Linked DNA regions of Homo sapiens: regions 1, 3, 4 and 5 are each linked to region 2. The links come from fine-mapping of genetic effects on gene expression. A gene starts in region 2. Each other region holds a variant in brackets. All regions are shown on one strand. Distances are from middle to middle.

Region 1 (5,104 bases), 65 kb after region 2:
GAAGAGCTGCAAAAAAAAAAAAAAAAAAGCAAGTGAAAACGATGATGATTTTGCCAATAATCATAATGTACTACTTTTGCAACCAAAAATATATTTTTTTAAGTAAGAGCGCTATTTCACTAAACTTCCCAGGGACATTGCCAGCGTGAGCTTTAGCAGCAACGTCAGGGGTGGGCAGGGGTCAGGGATCTTTTCCAGGCCTCCACAGGGTAGCCACTGCCCTGGCACCAGGGACCACAGGAGACAATGCCACACAGAGCCAGAGAGGGGCAATGGCCCCTGCCAAGAGTGGCCGGGAGACTGGTCCAAACATTGAATTTGAGACACTGGCTGGGGACCCCAGAACCGTCTGTGAGTGATTTGAAGGGAAGCTGCAATTCTCGCATGTTTGTTCCACCCTTAATTTTTTTTTTTTTTTTTTTTTTTTTTTGAGACAGAGCCTTGCTCTGTCACCCAGGCTGGAGTGCAGTGGCGCGATCTCTGCTCACTGCAACCTCCACCTCCTGGGTTCAAGCAATTCTCCTGCCTCAGCCTCCTGAGTAGCTGGGATTACAGGCACACACCACCACGCCCGGCTAATTTTTGTATTTTTAGTAGAGACGGGGTTTTGCCATGTTGGCCAGGCTGGTCTCGAACTCCTGACCTCAGGTGACCCACCCACCTCGGCCTCCCAAAGTGCTGGGATTACAGGCATGAGCCACCGCACCTGGCCCATCCTTAATGCTTTTAATTTAATTTTTGCGTGTGTGCTTTTTAATGGTCATATATGTTTGAGTATAAATACAAATATACTTTATAAATACATAAATATCAGAGTGCATGCGCAAAATTGTTTATTGATGGGAGGCGTGATCTAAAGAGTCTGGCAAGGGTAAGTCCACGTTCCTCACTAACTACTCCTGCCTTGGATTGCCGTCAATGTGTCCGCCGTGCAAACTGTGCCTCCCACACTAGATGCTGAGGGAGGATAGTCAGGGAGGTGTTGTGGAGACCTGTGCCACTGAGTTCAAACCACCTCATGCTGAAGTGGAGTCACTGGGGCCTAGAAGGTACCAAGGGGCCCAGGATCCTTGTGGGGAGCGGATATAGAGAGGGTCTTTGAAGTCTCTCAGTACTGGAATGAGCACAGGGCTTGCCTTCAGAGGAGTGTGTGCTGGAGCCCCAGCCCTGGGACACACCAGTTGCACAATCTCAGGTGAGCCACTCTGACCTTCCAGGTTGTCTTCCATAAAATGAAGAGGCTGGTGAGTGATGTATACCTCGTGCTATTGCTGTGAGAGTCACATGAAGTAATGGAAGAGGAAAAGGGCCTTGGGGAATCACAGAACATCTTCCTTCACCCAGGCAGCATCCCAGGCACAGGTTGCCCCACAGGCCTCCTGGGCTCCTAGGTCTGTAAAGACGGGGTGCCAGCTGGGGGAACCTAGGCCAAGGCCCCTGCCCAGACAAAGCCAAGTCTGGCTCAAGTGGGCCAGAGTCATGCACAGCCCAGGTGAGCTGGGCACTAGCACCCAGCCACTGACACCAACCATCAGCTGCCCCTGCCATCTGGAGACCCAAGGCAGCTTTGGTTCTCCGTTTATCCCCACCAGACCTTGGGCAAGAAGGTGGGGAGCAGAAACAACTGACACATACAAAGTGGCGGTCACCCATCCTGAGCACCCCCGCAGTCCTCCTGCCTCAAAGCCTCCATTTCACTCACTCTTCTAGCCCCCACCCTTGCTTCCTCATCATAAGTGCCGGCCGATGCATGCATGTTGCAGAAAATAGGATAAATCAGGGTTGCTTTGATTGGTTGCAAGTTCAGAGGCTTTGGGGTTTTGTAGATCTGCCCGAAGCATTGAAACACCTAAATACTTGGATGATTCCTCTCTCCTTTGTCACCTCTGCCACAGGGATGCATCTTGAATCCCAGACCCAGGACTTCCAAACCTTTGAGCATCCTTTGTAGAAAATGGCTCCAGTGACCTCCCCCAATCCATCCCCACCCTATCTGCAGAAGAGCTTATCTGGGGGCAGGGAAGATGCTTTGATTCATTCCATTCCCCTATTTCTGATTCTCATCCTTTAGTAAAGCAGGAGAGACAGAAGGGATTGCTCTGGGCTTTTGTGAAGATGTGTGAGGGAGGTAGAGGCAGGCTCATGTTTGCCTGTATGCAGAGCCAAGAAAGGACCAGTGGATATCGGAGGCATTGTCTTTTATTCTAACTGGTGGCACAAGAAGCAGAGAAACTATCCTATCCAGTTTTGTACAGACGATGCTATGCCTTGTATTGTTCTCTGTGGATTTATAACAAAGGCTGACATCCTGAAACAGATGGGAGTTTCTCACACTCAGGCACACAGCTTGCTCACCCACCCCTGGGTCTCCCACAAGCCAGCTCACTGCCTGGCACACAGGAGCCATTCGTGGATGCTGAAGTGAGCCATGAGGACAAGGCCATGCCTGATTCGGCACTATCCTAGCACAGTCTAACACAGCTGGATGCTCGGTTTTCTTTATTTGATTAAAGGCAACTTAAATTAGCGGCCACTTCTCTCCTCCCCATGCCCTGGATGAGACCCTCATATTGAACACCCAGCAGATCTTGCAAATCAGGGCTGAGTCTCAGCGATCCATTGCACTGGTGATAGCCTGAAATTGAGGTTAAACCCAGGCGAGAGCTCTCCCAACAGCCCAAGAAGGGGGTAACGGTGAGAACTCTCACTACAGTGCAGACAGTGTAACAAGGGCTGCCAGCTCCACCCCACCTGTGCACACCCTTACCATCAAAACACACCACAGGAAGGGGAGAATAACAAAGCCAGCCATGTCATCTGTGGTTTCACCTCTA[C/T]AGTGACACATTTTCCTGTACTGGTGCCCCAGCAGGGCAATCTTAGTTTAGGTTGATACTAATACTAATACTAATACTAATACTAATACTAATACTATACTAATACTAATACTCTTGGGTTGATTGTGAACAAGAGACACGGGTGACGCAGGGAGAGTGCTAGGTGTGAGGTCCCACCTGCCAGGTGTCTGAATCATGAACCTTCTGCAGAGGGAACAGTACTGCCTGCCTCCCTAGAACATGGCGCTGATGACATGAGAGGTGTGAAAGTGCCTGGCAAAGAGCGGGAACTCTTCCACACTGTACATTGTTTAAAGCGGGAATAAGAGTTGCTGTCCAGGTTCAAAGGCAACTCTTGGAACAATGCGGGTAGCGGGTGCTCTTTGCATAAACACCATAGAAAAGGTCATCCCCACCCACGTCCCCCAACAGCTGTGCAGCTCTGCCTCCCTTTCCCCAGAGGAAAACTCAGACTCCAGTTTCCCGCGTCCGGCCTTCTACGGCTGCTCAGGACTCCAGGGGACAAAAGAAGGGCGAGAGGCAGGAGTGAGAGGGAAGTGGGTGGTTTGCTGCAAGCGGGGAGCTGCTGAGGGCAGGCTGGGGCCCTGCAGGGAAGCAGGGAGATTGTGGAAGATGTGTCTCCCACGCAGAGGAGGATTTGCCAGGAGGCCAACAAGCTAAGCTTCAAGCCGCTCACTTGTACGGACCCTTCCAAGTCCCTCTTCCTAAGTTTGTATTTATAATTTTGTATTCTTCATCTAAGAAAGCCTCAAAACTATGTAAGCCTCAGGCCCCCACAGAACCTGAGTCTGCCCTGGCTCCCACATAGAATGCTTCTCTCCTCTGAGATAAGCCCCTAGCTCTTCCCTAACGTGATCGCCTACGCCCCCTTCCTTCCAGCCACATCCCACGACCCCCACCTGGGCATTTCTCTGTCCAGCCAAACATAGGCATTGGCTTATAATGTGCCCCTGCCTGCCTCTCCTGGAACCTCTCAGCCTGGGGCACTCCTGCTCACCCTCCGAGACCCACAGCAAATACTTCCAACAATAGGAAGCCTTCTCCCAGGTCCCAGACAGAATCAACACTTCATCCTGGGTGCTGCCACCACGCTCAGCATGTCCCTCTGTCATAGCACAAATACCCCACAGGGGACTGCACTGTTGAAGGTCCACCTCCCAGCCTAGGCTGTGGTTCCTCCAGGGTCCAGACAGGCTTATCTGATTCTGTGTCTCCAAAGCCTACTAGCTCACAGCCGGGTCCGGTGGCTCACACCCGGAATCCCAGCACTTAGGGAGGCCATGACGGGTGGATTACCTGAGGTCAGGAGTTCAAGACCAGCCTGGCCAACATGGTGAAACCCCCATCTCGACTAAAAATACAAAATTTAGCCAGGCGTGTTGGCAGGGCGCCTATAATCCCAGCTACTTGGGAGGCTGAGGCCAGAGAATCGCTTGAACCCAGGAGGCAGAGGTTGCAGTGAGCCGAGATCATGCCGTTGCACTCCAGCCTGGGTGACAGAGCAAGACTCTCTAAAACACACACACACACACACACACACACACACACACACACACACACACAAAGCTTACTAGCTCAGGGCTCCCAGGTACAGGGCAAATGTTCCTTGAATAAATGAATTAACTGATGGCCTCAGCCAGGGACAATGGCAGAGTGACTGAAAAGGTCGGACTTCAGTCCTGGAGTCCCACCTGCATGGCTCCCATGCTCTGGCAACCCTTCCTTGGATTCCTTATTCAACTCCTCCAAACAGCAGTCCTGAGAAACCATTCCTGCAACCTGAGCGCCCTCTGGTGGCTGAAATGTTGCCTTCCCCCAAGAACTAGAGGCAACGGGTGGGGCCTTCCTTGGACATCCAGCATAGCTCTTTAATTCCCTAAAGCAATGTGTTTACAAGGCTCTTATTCACTTGGAGGCTCAAGTCCTACCATTTATGTTATTCTTTAGCCTGGAAGCTTTGAGAACTCATCTCATTCAAGGTCCCAAAGACCCCCACCCCAGCCCCTGTTCCTCTGACAGTGATGTGGTCTCCACATCTGCCTGCAAGGTCTCAGAGAGGAAAAAGAGGAGTTGGACCAAGACACAATCGCAAACACTGTAACCTCAAATGTTAAAATCCTGAAAGATTGTAATCTCTAAAGTCTAAACCCCTAACATCTAAAATCCCAAAAATCACAATCACAGGATCGTTTTTTGTTGTTTTTTTCCTTCCTTTTTCACTATTTTAAATTTTCAGCATGATTTTTTAC
Region 2 (5,090 bases):
CGGGTGGGTGGGGCAGCAGGCCTGGAGTGGGGCCTTGCTGGCCAGAAATGTCCTGAGCCCCTCTTCTTTGGTTTGTCTGAGAACAAGGGCAGGGCTTGAGGGATGCACACACAGTCCCAAACACACATATGCACTTGGCAAACAGACAACGTTCTCCACACCACAATGAAATCCAAATCCACAGACTGGCCACTGCAAATCATATATGACTGCAAGTGCACACACACACACACACACACACACACACACACACACACACTTTGAAGCAGGTGTCAGCCTCCAAGAAAAAGTGATGGACAGTCTGTCTCTCATATCCTCACATATTTGGTTCACCTGGAGATGGCCTCAGATGAGCCAAGTGACACAGAGGTGCGAGAGACTGAGGATGTGCTGAGGTGTTACCCAGCACTCCAGTAGTGCTATTACCCAACACAAAAATTGGTCTGAATATCAGATTTCAAGCAAGCAAGGGAAACCCAGAAGAGACTGGGAGAAGTCCTTATGGAGGCTAAAGCAACTCCATGTTGGATGCTAATCCACAGTTTTGGCCGTGTTGGCTTTGGAGCCTCCCAGAAGACCTCTGAGATTCCCAATTTATCAATTGCTCCTTGTGTAAGTGCAAACACTTACTGTAAATCCGGCCCTTAGGTCAAACAACCTTGATGTTATCATACTTCAACTGTCCTACACATCTTTTCTGAATCACCCTTCCCCTGTGGTCTATAAGCCCTGGTCCTGGGGGTGAATCATGGAGACACAAACGTAGCTTCTGTTTATAAGTCCTTATTAAATGTTTTTTTCGAAGAAACTGGATGTGTCAGCCTGTAACCTGCAAAAGGATCTGGCTGCTCTCTGCTTGTAGAAAGAATGGATAATAAAGGAAAATCTGCTAGCTGCCATGCTAGCAGGGGAAGAGCAGCAAACAATTCCACTCTTCAATTCATGGGGGGAACGCAGGGGTTTTTTAAGAAAGGATCTGAAATGCAGAAAAGGCAAGGGGGAGGTTAGGAGGTACCAGGTGGTGTGACTTGCTCCAGTGGTCCTCTTTAATTATCGTCTTATTTGGTGGAGGGGCTGGTGCAATCGTGGATCCTGCCAGGTTATAAATTAGTTACTCTTCAGCAGGGTATATGTTCAACTCCTGAAGTAAGCTTTTGTTGGAGAGAGAATTCCGGAGGTGCCTGGTCCCTATCAGGACGCAGCTCCTGAGGCATCTAAGGAAATATATGACCAGGTAAGAGCATAGCGTGTGCTTAACAAGCACGTAGGTAAATAAACGTGCGTAAGGCATGGGAGTACAGTATGGGACAGGAAAGGGAGTGGAGGTCACAGCACGTCCTGAGGCTGTGTTTTAAGATGAGAGGTAACATACATGCAGTTTGTCTCAAAATTATATCTTGAGGCCCAGAGGAGGAAGAGAAAAAAGGAAAGAAGAGAAACTAAGTTTAAAACACGGTTTAAGGCTGGGCGCGGTGGCTCACCCCTGTAATCCCAGCACTTTGGGAGGCTGAGGCGGGTGGATCACCTGAGGTCAGGAGTTCGAGACCAGCCTGGCCAACATGGTGAAACCCCGTCTCTACTAAAAATACAAAAATTAGCCCAGGCGTGGTGGCACATGCCTGTAATGCCAGCTACTCGGAAGGCTGAGGCAGGAGAATCGCTTGAACCTGGGAGACGAAGGTTGCAGTGATCCGAGATCACGCCACTGCATTCCAGCTTGGGCGACAGAGCGAGACTGTAAAAAAAAAAAATAGATAAAAAAATTTTAAAAATCGCGGTTTGAGGCTCAGCTGCTGAGCTGCTGGTTAAAAGCCTCTTTCTTGGGTCTCTCAGCTTCCTGGGACTTTGGGGGCAGGTCTGCATAAACTGCTTAGTTGTGGACCCCCCTCCAACAATTAGGTAGGGGACTACTCAGTATTCATCCATCGGTGTCCTCAGACCCCCAGACGGGGAGGCCCTGGGGCAACGCCAAGACTCACACCGGCGTCCTGGCGCCTTTGCCCTCAAGGGCCTGCAACTACCTCCTCCCCATTCGGAGCGGCCGCGGCCACATCCTTAACGCCAAGCCGGCACGCCAGGCAAAAGCGGCTCGGACGCCCTCACCCCACCTTCCGCACTCAGGGCCGAGGCTGTGCCTGGCCACCTGCTTCCCAGCACATGCACACACGCGCGCGCGCACACACCCACACACACGTACCCACGGCCGGCCGGGCTACCCGGACCACTTTGATCCGAAGGCACTGGAGGCCCAGAGGGAAGGAAAGGGAGGGGTGGCCGGAGCCCGCTAGCGCCCCAGGACAGCCTCGGGTTGCCCCAGGCGGTAGCCCTGTGGGACAGTGGTTCCCCGTCCGCGGCCTCGGGGGCGGGGCGTCTGTAGGCCTCGCCCCGCTGACGTCAGCCCTGCGGGGCGCTGGCGGAGCGGGCGGCGGAGCTGTCAGTCCCAGCCCAAGGGTAGCTGGAGGCGCGCAGGCCGGCTCCGCTCCGGCCCCGGACGATGCGGCGCGCCCAGGATGCTGCCGTGCCTCGTAGTGCTGCTGGCGGCGCTCCTCAGCCTCCGTCTTGGCTCAGACGCTCATGGTAAGGCTCCGGGACGCGGCCCTTCCCTGCCCTGCCCTCTCCGCGCCCGCTCCATTAAAGTTCTCCATCCAGTGGAGAGCCCTGGCTGGCTGGCCCTCTGGCAGAGCGGTGCCCGGGTGCTCCCTTACTCTGGCAAACCTGGATCTCAGGCTCACCTGTTGTGGAAGTGGAAGAGGCTGAAATTGACAGGAACTGACGGATTGGGAAGGATAGAGAAGTATGCGCAAGGCCAAACCCCCAACCCGCAAACCTCATCATCCACCCACTTCTAGATGAGCCGTAAGTTTAGCTCTAGGTTTTTTGCTGTTTAGGTTCAAATGATGGGACTTCTTGTCCCCTTGGGGAATAATTTTGATCTCCTGACTCTCCCTTCTCTTAGTCGACTCTTCAACTAACCTCTGTCTGTCCTTCTCCCATCTCACCTTCATCCCTCACTGATCACCCCGATCTGATCCCCCTTGCTCCACCTGTAGCCCCCAACTCACTCCCACTGCCCCCTGCCTCTCTCCTCCTAACCCAGCCAGTTCAGGCTTCTAACCCAGTTCAGGCTCCTAACCCAGACAGTTCTCCGGCAAGGTTTCTGCAACTAAGAAAAGTAAACCCCAGAGACAGAATGAAAGAGCCGGGAGTTGGAAGGACCAAGAGCAGAGACAGAGAGCAAGGACCGAAACTGCTTCTTCATGACACCAAAATACAAAGTAAAACATGCAGTCAGCCATTCACGTGATCGAGAGCTGAGTCGGAGATGTGCAGCCCAAATACCACAACGACTCGCTGCATTTTTCACTTTCCGTCTAATGTTTCGAAATCAAGGCACTGACGTGAAGATCAAAGACGGTATAAGAAAGAAAGCAAGAGACAGATGACAGAGTCCTCCCCCCCAAAAAATAAATAAAAAACAGGTGCATGATTAGAGAGATGTAGAGAAGTTAGAACACTAGGGAGCGGGAGCAGAGTCGCTGTCAAATGGAGAGAACTTAGAGGATCAAGGAGGAGAGAAAGGGAACCAACCAGCCGTTGGCCTTGCACATACTTCAGTCTGCTTGATCAACAAGACTCTTAAAGTAGAAATGTTTGTTGCATTCTTACAAAGAAGACAATGCCTTCAGCAGTGTTTCCCATGGTGAATGGTGTGTACTGGGGGTAAAGGGAGAGTAGAGCTAGGAATTGGTATTGAGTATCTCTCCTCGGAGCTACAGGTGCCAGCTCTTGTGGGGATGTCCTCAGCCATGTGTAGAGCCAGAGCTGATTTATTCCATCTGTCCTTGCCCAGCCAGAGGTTGGACATCTGGCTATAGGCAAAGCCCTCCCAGAAACTAGGGAATGAGGCAAGCACTTAGCTTGGGGAGCCCAGGAGACCTATGAAGAGAAGGAGGCAGATGTCAGCAAGCAGGCTGTCTGTGTACTTAGTGAGGTGGCTTTGAGCTGGAGCCTGGGCCAAGCCAGGGTGGGGATCAGGTGTGTGGATGGGGCCAAGCCTAGGAATAGTGCTAGAGCAGGGACAGGGATTGGGCAGAGCCAGGGACTAACACATCTGAGAGCTCATTGCCAACTTGCTTAGCCCTCGGCCCCTGCCTTCTTCCCTGGTAGGCATCAGACTCAGCTTGGCTCTTCTCAGCCCCCACTGCAGCTTCTGATCACAGAGAGCACAGGGCAGTGATTTAGGGAGACACACTAGCTCTAGAATCAGACACATGTGGATTCATGTGCCCACTCTGCCCCTTACGGGCTCCGCTGGCCTCGGGCGAGTCATAGCCTCTCTGAACCTCCCTTTCTTCTTTGGTAAAATTGGGGTCATCAATGCCTGCCCCCCCTCCCAGCTGTGGTACTGACACTCTTCTCCCCAGGGACAGAGCTGCCCAGCCCTCCGTCTGTGTGGTTTGAAGCAGAATTTTTCCACCACATCCTCCACTGGACACCCATCCCAAATCAGTCTGAAAGTACCTGCTATGAAGTGGCGCTCCTGAGGTGAGGAAAAGGGAAGAGGGAGGGGGAGGGAGGAGTGAATCCCCGCCTTGTCCTCTACTCTCCTAGCATGGGAAGATACCTGCCTTGTTAATGAAGTGAGTGCCTGAGGGCCCCTAACACATAGCCAGCAGTTGACAAGTACTGACTGAGACTCCCTTGCTGAGCAATGTGCCGGGAGCTCTGGGTGAAAAGGCCAGAGCCTTTGCTCACTCCAGAGTAAGAAAAGCCTTGTGCCAAGGCTTTTCTCTTTTTTGTTTTGTTTTGTTTTGTTTCGTTGAGACAGCTTCTCGCTCTGTCACCCAGGCTGGAGTGCAGTGGCGCAATCTCAGCTCACTGCAGCCTCTGCCTCCTGGGTTCAAGCAATTCTCCCATCTCAGCCTCCCAAGTAGCTGGGATTACAGGGGTCCACCACCATGCCTGGCTAATGTTTGCATTTTTAGTAGAGACGGGTTTTCACCATGTTGGCCAGGCTGGTCTCGAACTCCTGACTTCAGGTGATCCACCCGCCTCAGCCTCCCAAAGGGCTGGGATTACTGGCGTGAGCC
Region 3 (5,104 bases), 38 kb after region 2:
TTTTGAGATGGAGATGGAGTTTTGCTCTGTCACCAGGCTGGAGTGCAGTGGTGCAATCTCAGCTCACAACAACCTCCACCTCCCTGGTTCAAGTGAGGTTCAAGTGATTCTCCTGCCTCAGCCTCCCGAGTAGCTGGGACTACAGGTGCCTGCCACCATGCCCAGATAATTTTTGTAATTTTAGTAGAGACAGGGTTTCACCATGTTGGCCAGGATGGTCTTGATCTCTTGACCTCATGATCCGCCTGCCTTGGCCTCCCAAAGTGCTGGGATTACAGGCGTGAGCCACCGCCCCTGGCCCAACAATAAGTCTTAGTAAGTAAATCTCAATAAATTTTTAAAAGTTAAAATAATATACAATATGTTCCCTGACCACAGAATTATATTGGAAAATAAAGACAAAAAGATATCTGGAAAACATCCCAATATTTGGAAATTAAACAACACACTTCTAAAAACATCCTGGGTAAAAGAAGATATCACAAGGGAAATTAGAAAATACTTAGATCTGAATGATATTGAAAACACAACATAGCAAAAATGTAAGTTGAGGAGACAGTCCAAGGCAGCTAAAGTTCACAAGACAGAGGAAAGAGCTACATCAGGTAAAGAATCCAGCTATGTGCAGAGGGACCCCCTCAAGTATTCAATAAGTAATGAGTGCCTGTGTATAAAGGAGCTACCTGAGGCCAGAGAATCATCTGAAAGCATTCGTGGGAAACAGTGTCTAGCATTCAAATAGGGCTAGAAGCAGGGCCTATTCCCATAAACCAGACTAGAAAAACTCGTAATTCACAGGGTATTGGATAGGGAACTCAGGAAGTTCTTGCCTTAGTGGTGAGAATAATTAGCCTTAGACTGTTCAGCCTAAGGCTAATTATTTCCACTACACTGGGTCTTGGTTTTATGATTTGTCTACTGCTCCGAACCCATCTAACAAATCATAAAACCAAGACCCAAAAAGGTCAAACTGCTTCCAACTAACTTAACTGCTTCCCAATATATTTATAGGCAAACAAAAATATCTACCACTCAGCAAAGTAAAATTCACAATATCCTCATTCAGTCAAATATTACCAGGCACTCAGAGAGGCAGAGCAAAATGACCCATAATGAACAGAACAACCAACAGAGCACAGGCCTTGGAATCCTGCAGCCTGGGTCTGAATCCTATTCACTCATCAGTCTGAGGCCTTCAGCAAGTTATTTAACCACCAAAAGCCTCAATTTCATGTGTGTGTGAAAAAGAGGGAGAGGGAGAAAGAGAGATTCAATAAGTCTCAAATTATAAAAGACCCTTTTTTTCTATTTTATTATTATTATACTTTAAGTTTTAGGGTACATGTGCACAATGTGCAGATTAGTTACATATGTATACATGTGCCATACTGGTGTGCTGCACCCATTAACTCGTCAGTTAGCATTAGGTATATCTCCTAATGCTATCCCTCCACCCTCCCCCCACCCCACAACAGTCCCCAGAGTGTGATGTTCCCCTTCTTGTGTAAAAGACCCCATTTTTTAAGACCCAAATTATTTCCAGGGATGAAAACTACAACATCTGAGATGAAAATTACATTGAATGGAATTAACAGCACACTAGGCATCACAGAAGAAAAAAGTAGTGCACTTGAAGGCATAGCAATAGGAACTATCCAAGGTGAGACATAGAGGGGAAAAAAAGTAATAAAACAAATGAAAAAGCTGGGCGTGGTGGCTCACGCCTGTAATCCCAGCACTTTGGGAGGCCAAGGTGGATGGATCACTTGAGGTCAGGAGTTCCAGACGAGCCTGGCCAAAATAGTGAAACACCATCTCTACCAAAAATATAAAAAAATTAGCCAGGTGTGGTGGCGTGTGCCTGTAATACCAGCAACTCGGGAGGCTGAGGAAGGAGAATGCTTGAACCTGGGTGGTGGAGGTTGCACTGCACTTCAGCCTGGGTGATAGAGTGAGATGCCTTCTCCAAAAAAAAAAAAGAAAGAAAGAAAGAAAAGAGTATTAGTGAGGTGCAGGACAACTTCAAGCCACCTAATATATGTGTAATTAGATTCCCTGAAGGAGAAAACGAGGGAAAACAGAAAAAAAAATTTTGATGAGATATGGCCAACAATTTTCCAATTTTGAAGAACCTGTCAAGTTATTTGTTCAAACAAGACATTTCTTTTCCTATGAGGAATTCTGGTGCCCATGGTTGATATCATAACTCTTTTTTTATTACATCAAGGAAGGCCTAAACTATCCTTAGGAAGAAATAGACTACATTTCCTTTCAACCGACCCTCCGTAAGAATCATTCTTTTTAACTAAACCATATGTATAGGTTGGAAAATATACAGGTCAAGGGTATGGTGTCTAGTAAGGTCCTGAGCTACATGTTCACTGTATTGCTTATAAAGGGTGAGGCCAGTTTTGTTTTGTTCTGTTTTGTTTTGTTTTGTTTTTGGCAGAGTCTCGCTCTGTTATCCAGGCTGGAGTGCAATGGTGTGATCTCGGCTCACTGCAACCTCGAC[C/T]TCCCAGGTTTAAGCAATTCTTCTGTCTCAGCCTCCCAAGTAGCTGGGATTACAGCTGCCCGCCACCATGCCTGGCTAATTTTTGTATTTTTGGTAGAGGTGGGGTTTCACCATGTTGACCAGGCTGGTGTCGAACTCCTGACCTCAGGTGATCTGCCCACCTCAGCCTCTCAAAGTGCTGGGATTACAGACATGAGCCACCGTGCCCAGCCTCAACTTTTATTTTAGATTCAGGAAGTAGATGTACAGGTTTGTTAAATGAGTATATTGAATGATGCTGAGGTTTGGGATACAAATGATCCCATTACCCGGGTAGTGAGCATTACTATTACCAATAGTTAGTTCTTCAACCCTTGCTCCTCTCCCTCTCTCCCCGATCTAGTGGTCCCCAGTGTCTATTTTTCCCTGTCCATATGTACCCAGTGTTAAGCTTTCACTTGTAACGGAAAACATGTGGTATTTGGTTTTCTGTTCTGGTGTTAATCTACGTAGGATAATGACCTCTAGCTTCATCAATTTTGCTGCAAAGGAGAAGATTTTGTTCTTTCTTATGGCTGTGTAGTATTTCATGGTGTATATGTACCACATTTTCTTCATCCACTCCACTGTTGATGGGCACCTAGGTTGATTCTAAGTCTTTGCTGTTGTGAATAGTGCTGCAATGAACATATGAGTGCATGTGACTTTTTGGTAGAACTGCTTATTTTCTTTTGGGTATATACCCAGTAATAAGATTGTGCAGTCAAATGGTAGTTGTGTTTTGAGTTCCTTGAAAAATCTCCAAACTGCTTTCCACAGTGACTGAACTTTACATTTTACATTTACATTTTAATTTACATTTCGACCAACAGTGTGTAAACGTTCCCTTTCCTCTGCAGCCTTGCCAACATCTGTTATTTTCTGACTTCTTAATAGTAGCTTTCCTTGCTGGCATGAGATGGTATCTCACTGTGGTTTTGATTTGCATTTTTCCAATGATTAGTGATGTTGAGAGCATTTTTTCGTGTTTGTTGGCCACTTGTATGTCTTCTTTTGAGAAGTGTCTGTTCATGTCCTTTGCCCACTTTTTAATGGGGTTATTTGGTCTTTGCTTGTCAGATTGCCCAAGTTCCTTATAGATTCTAGATATTAGACCCTTGTTGGATGCATAGTTTGTGAATATTTTCTCCCATTCTATAGGTTGTCTGTTTGTTCTGTTGATAGTTTCTTTTGCTGTGCAGAAGCCCTTTAGTTTAATCAGGTCCCTTTTGTCAGTTTTTATTTTTGTCGTAACTGCTTTTGGAAACTTAGTCATAAATTCTTTGCCAAGGCCAATGTCCAGAATGGTATTTTCTAGCTTTTCTTCTAGGATTTTTACAGTTTTAGGTCTTACATTTAAGTCTTTAATTTATCTTGAGTTAACTTTTGTATATGGTGAAAGTTAGGGGTCCAGTTTCAATCTTCTGCATAGGGTTAGCCAGCTATCCCAGCACCATTTTTTGAATAGGGACTCCTTTCCCCATTTCTTATTATTGTAGCCTTTGTCAAAGATCCAATGGTTGTAGGTGTGCAGCTTTATTTCTGGGTTCTCTATTCTGTTCCATTGGTCTAATGTGTCTCCTTGTATCAGTACCATGCTGTTTTGGTTACTGTAGCCTTGTAGTATAGTTTGAAGTTGGGTAATGTGATGCCTGTGGTAAAGCCACATATTTTAGAACTAAACATAGAAAATGAAAAAGCTGGGGATGAGGGAGTATTTCCTCAATAGAAATGGAGAAGCCTGACCCTTTTTCTCTCCTGGTCAATGCCTATACTGAGGTGGGCCAATCTTCAGGCACAGCCACAGTTTTTCTCAGAAATAGGTCTAGGATATCTCTACTATATGAATAATTAAAGGTGATTTCTCTGTGGCTAATATATTCCAAACAGATATATTATCTTGGGGCTCCCACTAGAACATCTGGCTTTAGAAAAATCACTCTTGGTGATCTTGCCAGAATAAATTTCTTGCTTGATTAATTAATATATTCTAATTACTGGCCAAAATAATTGGGACATCAGATGGGCACATGAACCCTTACCTAGGATTTTACAGAGGGAAATAATGTATCTACCAACTCTGCATTCATTAAGATGCAGGTCTTAGGCTGGGCGTGGTGGCTCATGCCTGTAATCCTCAGCACTTTGGGAGACTGAGGCAGGAGAATTGCTTGAGCCCAGGAATTTGAGACCAGCCTGAGCAACACAGTGAGACCCTGTTTCTTTTTTTAAAAAATAAAAATATAAAATGCAGGTCTTATATAAGTCTCGGTAGCCAAGAATCTATGGTAAACTGATATGCCTCTTCACAAAATCCAAATTTAAGAAAAGGTCAATACAACTTTTGCCCCACATATGTTGCTACAGGTGAAAATTCTCAGATGTTTCTCCAACAGGCTGTCAGCTATGTGAATTTTTTAAAAATCCACCACCACCACTTTTTTTTTTTTTTTTTTTTTTGAGACGGAGTCTCGCTCTGTCGCCCAGGCCGGACTGCGGACTGCAGTGGCGCAATCTCGGCTCACTGCAAGCTCCGCTTCCCGGGTTCACGCCATTCTCCTGCCTCAGCCTCCC
Region 4 (5,104 bases), 57 kb after region 2:
GTGACCTCTGGTAAGCTAAGATGTACATGGTAAATCCTAGAGTAACCACTTAAAAATAGTGAAAAAATAATTAAAACATTAAGCATCAAAATACATGAAGCAAAAACTGGCAGAAATGAAGGGAGAAATAGAAAACTCAACAATAATAAGTGAAAGCTTCAAAATTCCACTTTTAATATTGGATAGAATAACTCAATAGAAGATCAAGGAAATAGAAGATTTGAACAACACTACGGACCAACTACACCTAACAGACATCTGTAAAACACTCCACTCAACAACAAAATATGCATTCAAGTGTACATAAAACATCCCCTGGATAGACCATATGCCAAGCCGTAAAACAAACCTCAATAAAATTTAAAGAATAAAAATAATACAAAGTATATTCTCTGACCACAATGAAATAAAATTAGAAATCAATAGCAAAATAAATGGGAATAATTCTACAAATATGTGGAAATTAAACAACACACTCCTAAATACGACCTATAACCAATGGATCAAGGAATAAATCAAAAGGGAAATTTAAAAAACTTGGAGATGAATGAAAATAAAGACCCGGTACACCAAAACTTGTGGGATGCAATGATCAGAGAAAAATTTATATTTGTAAATGCCTACTTTAGGAATGAAGGAAGATCTCACATCAATGGCCTAATCTTCCAGTTAATCTTCTAAGACGCTAGAGAAAGAAACACAGGCCGGGCACAGTGGATCATGCCTGTAACCCCAGCACTTTGGGAGGCCGAAGTCGGTGGATCACTTGAGGTTGGGAGTTCAAGACCAGCCTGGCCAACATGGTGAAACCCTGTCCCTACTAAAAATACAAAAATTAGCTGGGCATGGTGGCAGATGCCTGTAATCCTAGCTACTCGGGAGGCTGAAGCAGGAGAATAGCTTGAACCTGGGAGGTGGAGGTTGCAGTGAGCCAAGATTGCACCACTGCTCTCCAGCCTGGGCAACAGAGTGAGACTCTGTCACAAATGAAAAAAAAAAAAAAGAGAGAGAGAGAAAGAAAGACAAACTCAACTACAGCAAGCAGAAGAAAGGAAATAAAGCTTAGAGTGGAAACTAATAAAATAGAAAATAAACAATAGAGAACACTAACAAACAAAAAATTGGCATAAGATCAACAAAACTGACAAACCTTTAGCTAAGTTAACCAAGAAAAAAAAAGACTCAAATTACTAGAATCAGAAATGAAAGAGGGGACATTGTTGTCAACGTTACAGAAACAAACATAATAAGAAATACAATGAACAGTTGTACACCAACAAAATAGATAACTTAGATGAAATAGACAGATTCCTAGAAATACACAAACCACCAAAACTGACTCAAGAAGAAACAGATGATCTGAATAAGTATAACAAATAAAGAGGCTGAACTAGCAATAAAAAATAATACCCACAAGAAAAACCCAAGCCTAATTAGCTTTCCCACTGATTCTGCCAAACATTTAAAGAAGAATTAATATCAGTTATTCACAAACTCTTCCAAAAAATAGAAGAGGCTAAACACTTCCCAACTCATTTTATAAGGCAAATATTACCCTGATGTCAAAACCAGACAAGGACATCACAAGAAAAGAAAACCAGAGAAAAAATATCTCTTATGAATATGGACGCAAAAATCCTCAACAATTAGGAATGATTGTATGTGGAAAAAGAATAAAGAATCCTCAACAAAATACTAGCAAACCAATTCCAGCAGTATCTAAAAATAAGTATACATCATAACCAAGCTGGATTTCTCCCTCGAGAGCAAGATTAGTTCAGCATCTGAAAATCAATTCTTGTAACACATCGTACCAGTAGAATTTTTTAAATCACATGATGATCTCAATAGATGCAAAAAAAGCATTTGACAAAATCAAACACTCTTTCATGATAAAAACACTCAACAAACTAGGAACAGAAGAGAACTTCCTCAACCTGACAAAGAGCCTTTATGAGAAACCCACAGCAATCATGCTAAATGGTAAAAGGCAGATGTTTTCTTCCTAGGATCAGTAACACGACGAAGATGTCTGGTCTCACCACTTCTGTTCAACATTGTACTGGAGGTTCTAGCCAGGGAAATAGTCAAGAAAAAGCAATAGAAGGTATCCAGATTGGAAAGGAAGAAATGAAAATATCTCTGTTCACAGATAACACAGTCTTACATATGGAAAATCCTCCTCCTTGAAGTCTGGGTATTTGGTAAAAC[AT/A]TTTTTTTTTTTTAAAGAAAATCTTAAGGAATCCACAGACAAATGTATAAACAGAATGTGGTATATCCATATAACAGAATATTCGGTCATATAAAGAAATGAAGTATTGATACATGCCACTTGAATGAACCTCAAAAACATTATGCTAAGTGAAAAAAGCCAGTCACAGAAGTCCACATATTATATGATTCTATTTATACAAAATATCCAGAAAATCTATAGAGGAAAATCTATAGAGAAAGAAAGTAGAGGCTGGGCGCAGTGACTCACACCTGTAATTCCAGCACTTTGGGAGGCTGAGGCGGGCCGAACACGAGGTCAGGATTTCAAGACCACCCTGGCTAACACAGTGACACCCTGTCTCTACTAAAAATACAAAAAATTAACTGGGCGTGGTGGTGGGCGCCTGTAGTCCCAGCTACTCGGGAGGCTGAGGCAGGAGAATCGCTTGAACCCGGGAGGTGGAGTGAGCCAAGATCGCACCACTGCATTCCAGCCTGGGCGACAGAGAGAAACTCCATCTCAAAAAAAAAAAAGGAAAAGAAAAAGAAAGTAGGTTATGGGGGGGCCAGGGGAAGTGGGGAGAAAAGGAGGGGGTTATCTTAGCTAAAGGGTATGGGTTTTTTTTTTAGGCGATGAAAATGTTCTAAAATTGACTGTAATGGTGGCTGCAGATATGCATGAATATATTAAAAACATTAAATTATATACTTCTAATGGGAGAATTGTATGTTATGTGAATTATATCTAAACAAAGCTGTTAAAAAAGCGATAAAATGCCAACCTATATTTATCTCTGTCTAAATTATCCCCTGGAGAGAAGGAGTTCCTAAATCCTTAAACTTGAAGAAGTGCATTGAAATGCATTTTCTATAATCCAGGTTTCCTGCAGATATGTAACACTCAAAACCCATGCAAAAAGCAGAGGTATCAAGATCCTTACACTTAGGTAAGAATCTACCCTAATTGTACTTATCTATCCATCTACTCATATTCCAGAAACCAAATCTTAGTCACTGAGAAGTCTGGCAGAATTGAAAAAAAAAAAAAAAAAATGCAGCCGTGAGTACGTGCCAAGCAGCATGAAGGTAATGGTGGCATTATGCACCTTACTATTTACCAAGCCATTTGGATGAACTGACCTAAAGCCAGGAGATCTTGCAAATGGTCATCCCACCGCCCATCTAAATCATGATTTCTCTCCAGATGCCCCTCCAACTCCCATTTAAAGTTCCTTCTAGGATGGGTGCGGTGATTCATGCCTGTAATCCCAGCATTTTGGGAGGCTGAGGGTGGGCAGATCACTTGAGGTCAGTGAAACCCTGTCTTTACTAAAAATACAAAAATTAGCCAGGCGTGGTGGCGGGCACCTGTAATTCCAGCTACTCCGGAGGCTGAGGCAGGAGAGTTGCTTGAACCCATGAGGCAGAGGTTGCAGTGAGCCGAGACTGCACCACTGTACTTTAGCCTGGGCAAGAGTGAGACTCCATCTCCAAAAAAAAAAAAAAAAAGTTCATTCTACTAAAAAAAAAACAAAACAAACAAACAAACAAAAAACCTCCTAGTTTGATCACTTAGAAGAAACCTCCAGCAGGTGATTGGACATCTCTAGCTTTTAGATTATACTGACAAGGAACTTTAAAACAAAACAAAACAAAAAATGAAGAAGCAAGCAGCACAACCCCCTGGAAGATTAGCAACACATCAAACAAAATCAGAAGGAAGTTCTAAAACTCAAAACCTAAGTACAACAGACCCTAGTGGGAGGCCCTAGGCTTTACTATTAGGATCAATGGTGGAGGCAGATGTGGAGATGATATTGCCCAAGGTCCAGGTTTGGCAAGAAAAATGGAACATTTTCATCTCCATTGGCTTCTAGGCCCCCTCACCCTCAATACATCAGGTTTTATGGAGCCTACACTTTTCTCCAGCTGGAATCAAGAATTCCTCCTTTGTTGCTCATCTGTTGCTCATCAATTCCACGTTTTAAAGATCAGTTCAAGTTGCAGAAGAATAGATATCACATAATTCTAGTTATGGTATACACACATGCACACACACACACACACACACACACACACACTAGAGAGAGAGAAAGGCTGTCACCAAGTTGCGGTTCTCCCTATGATTAAGGCAAGTCAGGGCAGGTGTAAAGCAGGTGATGATAGGGTTTATGAAGAACCAGGGGAGTGGGGTAGGGAGTAGAAGTAAAAAGAGCCTTTCAAGTTTTGCCTTAGTATTAGCTTGAACCATATAAAATTGTCATTTTTAAAGGTCAAAAACAGGTATCATCAATTTCACATGATTTTCATCTTTTGCAATAGAAATATTTGTGTGATGAATAATATTGCTGAAGAAAACAAACCAATCACATAACAATAAAAAATCAAGTATCTCCTGTTTGAAACTAGACCCATTGGTTTGTTTACTGCTCTCTAAACTTTACCTTCACTCTCTCTCTGATAATGTACAGCTCTGAATCTTTCAACCCAGTATAATGAATGAACAGACAGCAGATTTCAGGCAGATCTTTTTAACTCTTGACCATCGGGATATTTGCTTTAGCAGTGTGTGATGACGGAAAAAGACTTGGAGCCAGGCCATCTGGAAGCTAAAATATCATTACTCTGGGCAAGATTGAGTTTTAATCCTCTCTTATGTTGAAATGGGGATTAAAATATTAACTTCACAAGGTTAACGTGAAGATTAAGTGAGACGTGTATGTGAAAGGAGAGTTATATGGCTCCTGACACATGGTAGATATTCAATAAGTTATTTTCCTTCACTTAGAGTGAAATTTTCTAGAACAGCATAGAGTGTTGGCAGCTCTTCAATAATTTATCAGTAGCCTTTGTCCTCCTCTGGACAGAGACCAGTTAGGCACCAAGTACC
Region 5 (5,104 bases), 36 kb before region 2:
GGTCGGGGGGTGAAGGGGCAGGTAGGGGGTGGCAATGTTGGCAAATCATTTAAAGCTGAGCGTTAGACATCCCTGTTCAATCCTGTGCAGGATATATGAAGGTACAGGGATCAGGTCAACATGACGCCATTTGCAGACCTAACCTTATAGTAGGAAGACTGGCTCCAAGGCAGCTGGGGTTCTGGATACAAGAGTGCTGTGCTGTGCACATAGACAAGAGCCCTGCTCTCAAGAAGCTTACATTCTAGTAAGGAATGGGAGACAGGCAACAGACAACTGAACAAGTAAGTAAACTGATGATTTCTGTAGTATTAAGTGTCATAAAGAAAATAAAATGACGGCCGGGTGCGGTGGCTCAAGCCTGTAACACCAGCACTTTGGGAGGCCGGGGCAGGCGGATCACCTGAGGCCAGGAGTTCGAGACCAGCCCGACCAACATGGAGAAACCCTGTCTCTACAAAAAATACAAAAATTAGCCAGGTGTGGTAGCACATGCCTGTAATCCTAGCTACTCGGGAGGTTGAGGCAGGAGAATTGCTTGAACCCGGGAGGTGGAGGTTGCAGTGAGCCGAGATTGTGGCATCACTCCAGCCTAGGCAACAAGAACAAAACTCCACCTCAAAAAAAAAAAAAAAAGAAAGAAAGAAAGAAAGAAAAGAAAATGATATGAAATGATAGGAAGTGGCTGGTGGGGCTGGGTGTGGTGGCTTCCTGTAATCCCAGCACTTTGGGAGGTCGAGGCGGGTGGATCCCTTGAGCTCAGGATGGTAAAACCCTGTCTTTACAAAAAATACAAAAACTAGCCAGGCGTGGTGGAGTATGCCTGTAGTCTCAGGTACTTGGAAGGCTGAGGGGGGAGGATCACTTGAGCCCAGGAGATTGAGGCTGCAGTGAGCGGAGATCACACCACTGCACTCCAGCCTAGGCAACAGAGAGAGACACCCCCCGCCCCGCCAAAAAAAATTAATTAATTAATTAAAAATATTTTTGGCCGGACGCGGTGGCTCACCTCTACCCAGAGACTGTCACAGCCAAGAGGAGCCTATGGAGACATGGCAACTAATTATGACACCCTGGATCAGATGCTGGAATAGAAGAAGGATGTTAGGGCCGGGCGCAGTGGCTCACGCCTGTAATCCCAGCAGTTTGGGAGGCTGAGGTGGGCGGATCACCTGAGGTCAGGAGTTCGAGAGCAGCCTGGCCAACATGGCAAAACCCCTTCTCTACCAAAAACACAAAAATATTAGCTGGGCGTGGTGGTGCATGCCTGTAGTCCCATCTACTGGGGAGGCTGAGGCAGGAGAATTGCTTGAACCTGGGAGGTGGAGGTTGCAGTGAGCAGAGGTCATGCCACTGCACTCCAGCCTGGGGGACAGTCTTGCTCTGTCCCCCCACCAAAAAAATTATTTTTGTCTCAAAAAATAAAAAATAAAAATAAAAAGGAAGTGGCTAATGGGAAAGAAGGGAGGCACCTCTAAAAATGAGGTCAGGGATCTATCTAAGAAGGTGATGTAAGATGACACCTGAATGGTGAGAAGGAGACAGAGAGAGATGGAGGAGAAGATTGAACAGTGAGGAAGGAAGACAGAGATAAAGAAGAAACGGCACTTAGGATGATGCCTCAATAAGAGACTCCCATGGCAAGGCGCCCGATGTGATTCTCAAGCCAGGAAGATCAATGTGTGCATTCAATCGTGTGTCCAATCAGGGCACAATGTGGTCTCTCCTCTGAGCCCTTCATTTTCACAAAATCGATCATAGTCATGGATGTTTTATGCAAGGGGATTTTTACTTCTTAATTTGGTTTCTGTCTTGGTTTTGGTGGAAATCAAGGGAAGAACTGAGATTGCTACCCATGGAGCAGAACAGAAAACACACGTTTGAAAACAGAAGCCCAGAGGTAAAGGCAGGGTGGCCCACACATCCCCCTGGAAATTCCTCTCAAGCAGGGCTCCAGACCACATCAGGCCTGGGGCTTGAGATTCAAGCTTGTCTTATCTAAATCTTGAGGAGCAGGGAGGCCTTGGCTGATTTTTAGGATATAATCCCCAATGTGTATTGAGCACTTACAAGCTCTTTCCTTTCAATCTCTCTTTTCATCTTTGCATCCAGGTACCGCTGTTATTCCCACTTTATAGATGAGGAAACTAAGGCCAGGAGATGTTAAGTAACTTGTTGAAGATGGCATAACTAATAAGTGGGAGAAGCAGGATTTAAATTCAGGTCTGACTCCATCCCTGTGCCCTGAACCACGCACACCCTACGTATGAAATATATAAATGAATTTTAAAATGAATGCTTTTTGGCCAG[G/C]TGCGGTGGCTCACGCCTGTAATCCCAGCACTTTGGGAGGCTGAGATGGGTGGATCACGAGGTCAGGAGTTTAAGACCAGGCTGGCCAAGATGGTGAAACCCCGTCTCTACTAAAAATACAAAAATCAGCCGGGCGTGGTGGCGTGCACTTGTAATCCCAGCTATTCGGAAGGCTGAGGCAGAGAATTGCTTAAACCTGGAAGGCGGAGGTTTCAGTGAGCCAAGATTGCACCACTGCACTCCAGCCTGGGTGACAGAGTGAGACTCCGTCTCAAAAAAAAAAAAAAAAAGAAAGAATGCTTCTTTTGCCCCCCTGCCCCCAACATTCAGATAAAAGCACTTTCTCTCTTTTGAACTTCCATAGCAGTTGCTCTGGGTTGAAATTGGAAAGAACCTTTGAATACATAGGGCAGCAGTTCTCAATCAAGGCACATTGGCAATCTCTAGACATTTTTGGTTGTCACAACTAGTGGTGAGGAATGCCGCTGGCATCAATTGGATCGAGGCCAGGACACTGCTAACAACCCCAAAATGCACAAGACAGCCCTCCACGAGAATTACCCAGACAAAAATGTCACAAATGTTGAGGCTGAGAAACCCTCCGGTAGAGGGTGTCGTCAAGGAAAGCAGCTGGCTGGCTGGAGTGATGTTATCTTGATAGTTTAACCTCAACCTGGGGTTTGTTTCTCACTTGTCAAGCCCAGAACCTTGAGTTTGTGAATTCTCTGAGATGAAAAGGTCCTGAAGAAATGATTCACATCAAACCAAAAAGCATAAGAAAGTGATTTTTAACTTTTTAGAAAAACACAGTTATCCTCCTCCAACCCAAAACAAGCAAGAATTCTTCCTATTATTAACCCTTCCACTGCCCCCACCAACACATACACACAAATACCCACTGGAATCCATCCAGGGAACTGGGCAGTAAACCCTGGGTGGTCACCTGCAGCTCAGCACCACTTTTGACTCCACCTGTCCAGAGCTACTGTGGTGGCACCTGGGGAACAGGTAAACAGAAGCAACCTTTCTAGAAAGATCCAGACCTGGAGATAGTCTGAGATTTGCAGAGACAAAGCCAAAGGGAGAGAGCCCAGGACAAAGGCCAGTGAATTCTCCAAAGTGACGTGCATGCATTTGCCACAAGAAACCTGGTGGCCACAGAGTCCAGAATGCTCTTGTCAGCAGAGCAATAAATTCTGTCCCCAGAGAGAAGCTCACTTCAGGCTACAGACAGACTCAGCCACTGAAGCAAACCCTCAGGAAGCCAGCTGCTCATCCAGTGTGCAACAAACCCTCACAAGAGAGGTGTGCGAACTTCGTAGGCTCTTCAGCCTTCCAGAGGACCTTCCTCATCCCAGGATTGACCAGGCCAGACCCTGCTAGAAGGATTCTAGCACCAAATGCACTCTACCTTCAAGCTCTGCCTCTCAGTCCTAGGGAGACCTGTACTGTGCACTGGAGGCCCTCCCTCTCACGGAGGCTTTCTTCCTCTTGTTGGCACGTAGACCAAGTTGTGGTTGAGTCTCTCTGCAGCCTAAAGTCAGCTGGTATCTAGATTTGATCTGGGATGCGTTGACTTTCTAGTTTAGCTCTCTTGTGTCCCTTGTTTATCAGTACTACTAGTTCAGGGGGCACCTGTCTGCTTCACTCTGGCCCTGTGCTAGATCACCAGTCACTTTCTACACTGTGTTAGCGTCACCTGAGCATGTATGTCACCCTCCCCACTAAGTCTAGGGTTGGCAAGACAGCTCAGGCAAAGTCAGAATTGCAACCCAGCTGTACTGAACACTGGCTGTGTAACCCTGGGCAATGGATTTCATCTCTCCAAGTCTCAGTTGCCTCATCTATAAGCCAGAACTCCTGACTGCAGCTGGATCGGGTCGGTGTGAGGATCAGATCAGGATAGACACACGCAGTGCCCCACACCATGCCTGGTGGGTGGTGAGCACTCAGTGTGTGTGGGCTCTCATCGTCGCAGCGGATGCCCTGCACAGAGCCTGCGAGTGGGAGCTGGTGCCTCACAGCAGCAGGTGCCATGCATGTCTGATTCAGGGAATCGGTGCAAACTCCTTGTTCATGACTTGTTTCAAGCACATATGCTCGTCTGACCAGTGCAGATTCAAGACTTTAGTAGGACAGAAAGAACAGCAGTGTGGCCAGGTGGGGTCACAGGCTTGATGCCAGCCCTGCCTCCACCCTTTGCGGCTGTGGGACCCTGGCAGGTTACTTAACTACTCAGTGTCCTCAATGAAAAGCGGGGCAGAGGGCAACCCTTCCCTTCTAGGCCAACACTGCCCATTAGAAATGGAACACAAGTCACAAACACAAGCCGCATATGTGATTTTTTAAAATGTAGTACCTACATGTCACAAACATTTTTTTAAATGAAATTGGCCTTAGTCATATCTTTTTTCTAACCCGGAATACCCAAAATATTGTCATTTAGATATGTAATCAATTAAAGAATGAATGGGATATATATATAAATATGAACTCTTTGATATCCAGTGGTTTTTTTTTTGAGATGGAGTCTTGCTCTGTCGCCCACGCTGGAGTGCAGTGGAGCGATCTCGGCTCACTGCAAGCTCCGCCTCCCAGGTTCACGCCATTCTCCTGCCTCAGCCTCCCGAGTAGCTGGGACTACAGGCGCACATCTCAGGTCACACTAGCCAGCTTTCGGGTCCCCAGCAGCCACGTGGGGAGTAGCTACCACTCAGGACTGTAGCTCCAAATGAGCGCATGGAGGTAAATTAGCTGGACCCAAGTAGGTACATGGCGAATGTTGGCGTTATTA

What was found.
Region 1: its variant is fine-mapped to the expression of IL10RA in whole blood (TOPMed, PIP 0.98).
Region 3: its variant is fine-mapped to the expression of IL10RA in whole blood (INTERVAL, PIP 0.95).
Region 4: its variant is fine-mapped to the expression of IL10RA in whole blood (INTERVAL, PIP 0.99).
Region 5: its variant is fine-mapped to the expression of IL10RA in whole blood (TOPMed, PIP above 0.99).

Annotation. Positions count from the first base shown.
Region 1 is chr11:118,048,937-118,054,040 of GRCh38, forward strand. The region is part of intron 1 of SMIM35 (small integral membrane protein 35); the gene reads right to left. Among named protein-coding and RNA genes, the nearest start is that of TMPRSS4, 26 kb to the right of the region's middle. The variant C/T (reference allele first, on the strand shown) is at 2,835.
Region 2 is chr11:117,983,958-117,989,047 of GRCh38, forward strand. IL10RA (interleukin 10 receptor subunit alpha) reads left to right here and starts at 2,437. Exons shown (of 7, transcript NM_001558.4): 1 at 2,437-2,577; 2 at 4,425-4,545. The coding sequence starts at 2,511. RefSeq lists enhancers at 1,865-1,924, 3,315-3,614 and silencers at 2,115-2,214, 2,235-2,514.
Region 3 is chr11:118,022,049-118,027,152 of GRCh38, forward strand. The region is part of intron 1 of SMIM35 (small integral membrane protein 35); the gene reads right to left. Among named protein-coding and RNA genes, the nearest start is that of IL10RA, 38 kb to the left of the region's middle. The variant C/T (reference allele first, on the strand shown) is at 2,513.
Region 4 is chr11:118,041,067-118,046,170 of GRCh38, forward strand. All of the region lies in intron 1 of SMIM35 (small integral membrane protein 35), which reads right to left. Among named protein-coding and RNA genes, the nearest start is that of TMPRSS4, 33 kb to the right of the region's middle. The variant AT/A (reference allele first, on the strand shown) is at 2,212.
Region 5 is chr11:117,947,569-117,952,672 of GRCh38, forward strand. No RefSeq gene overlaps it. Among named protein-coding and RNA genes, the nearest start is that of TMPRSS13, 21 kb to the left of the region's middle. The variant G/C (reference allele first, on the strand shown) is at 2,311.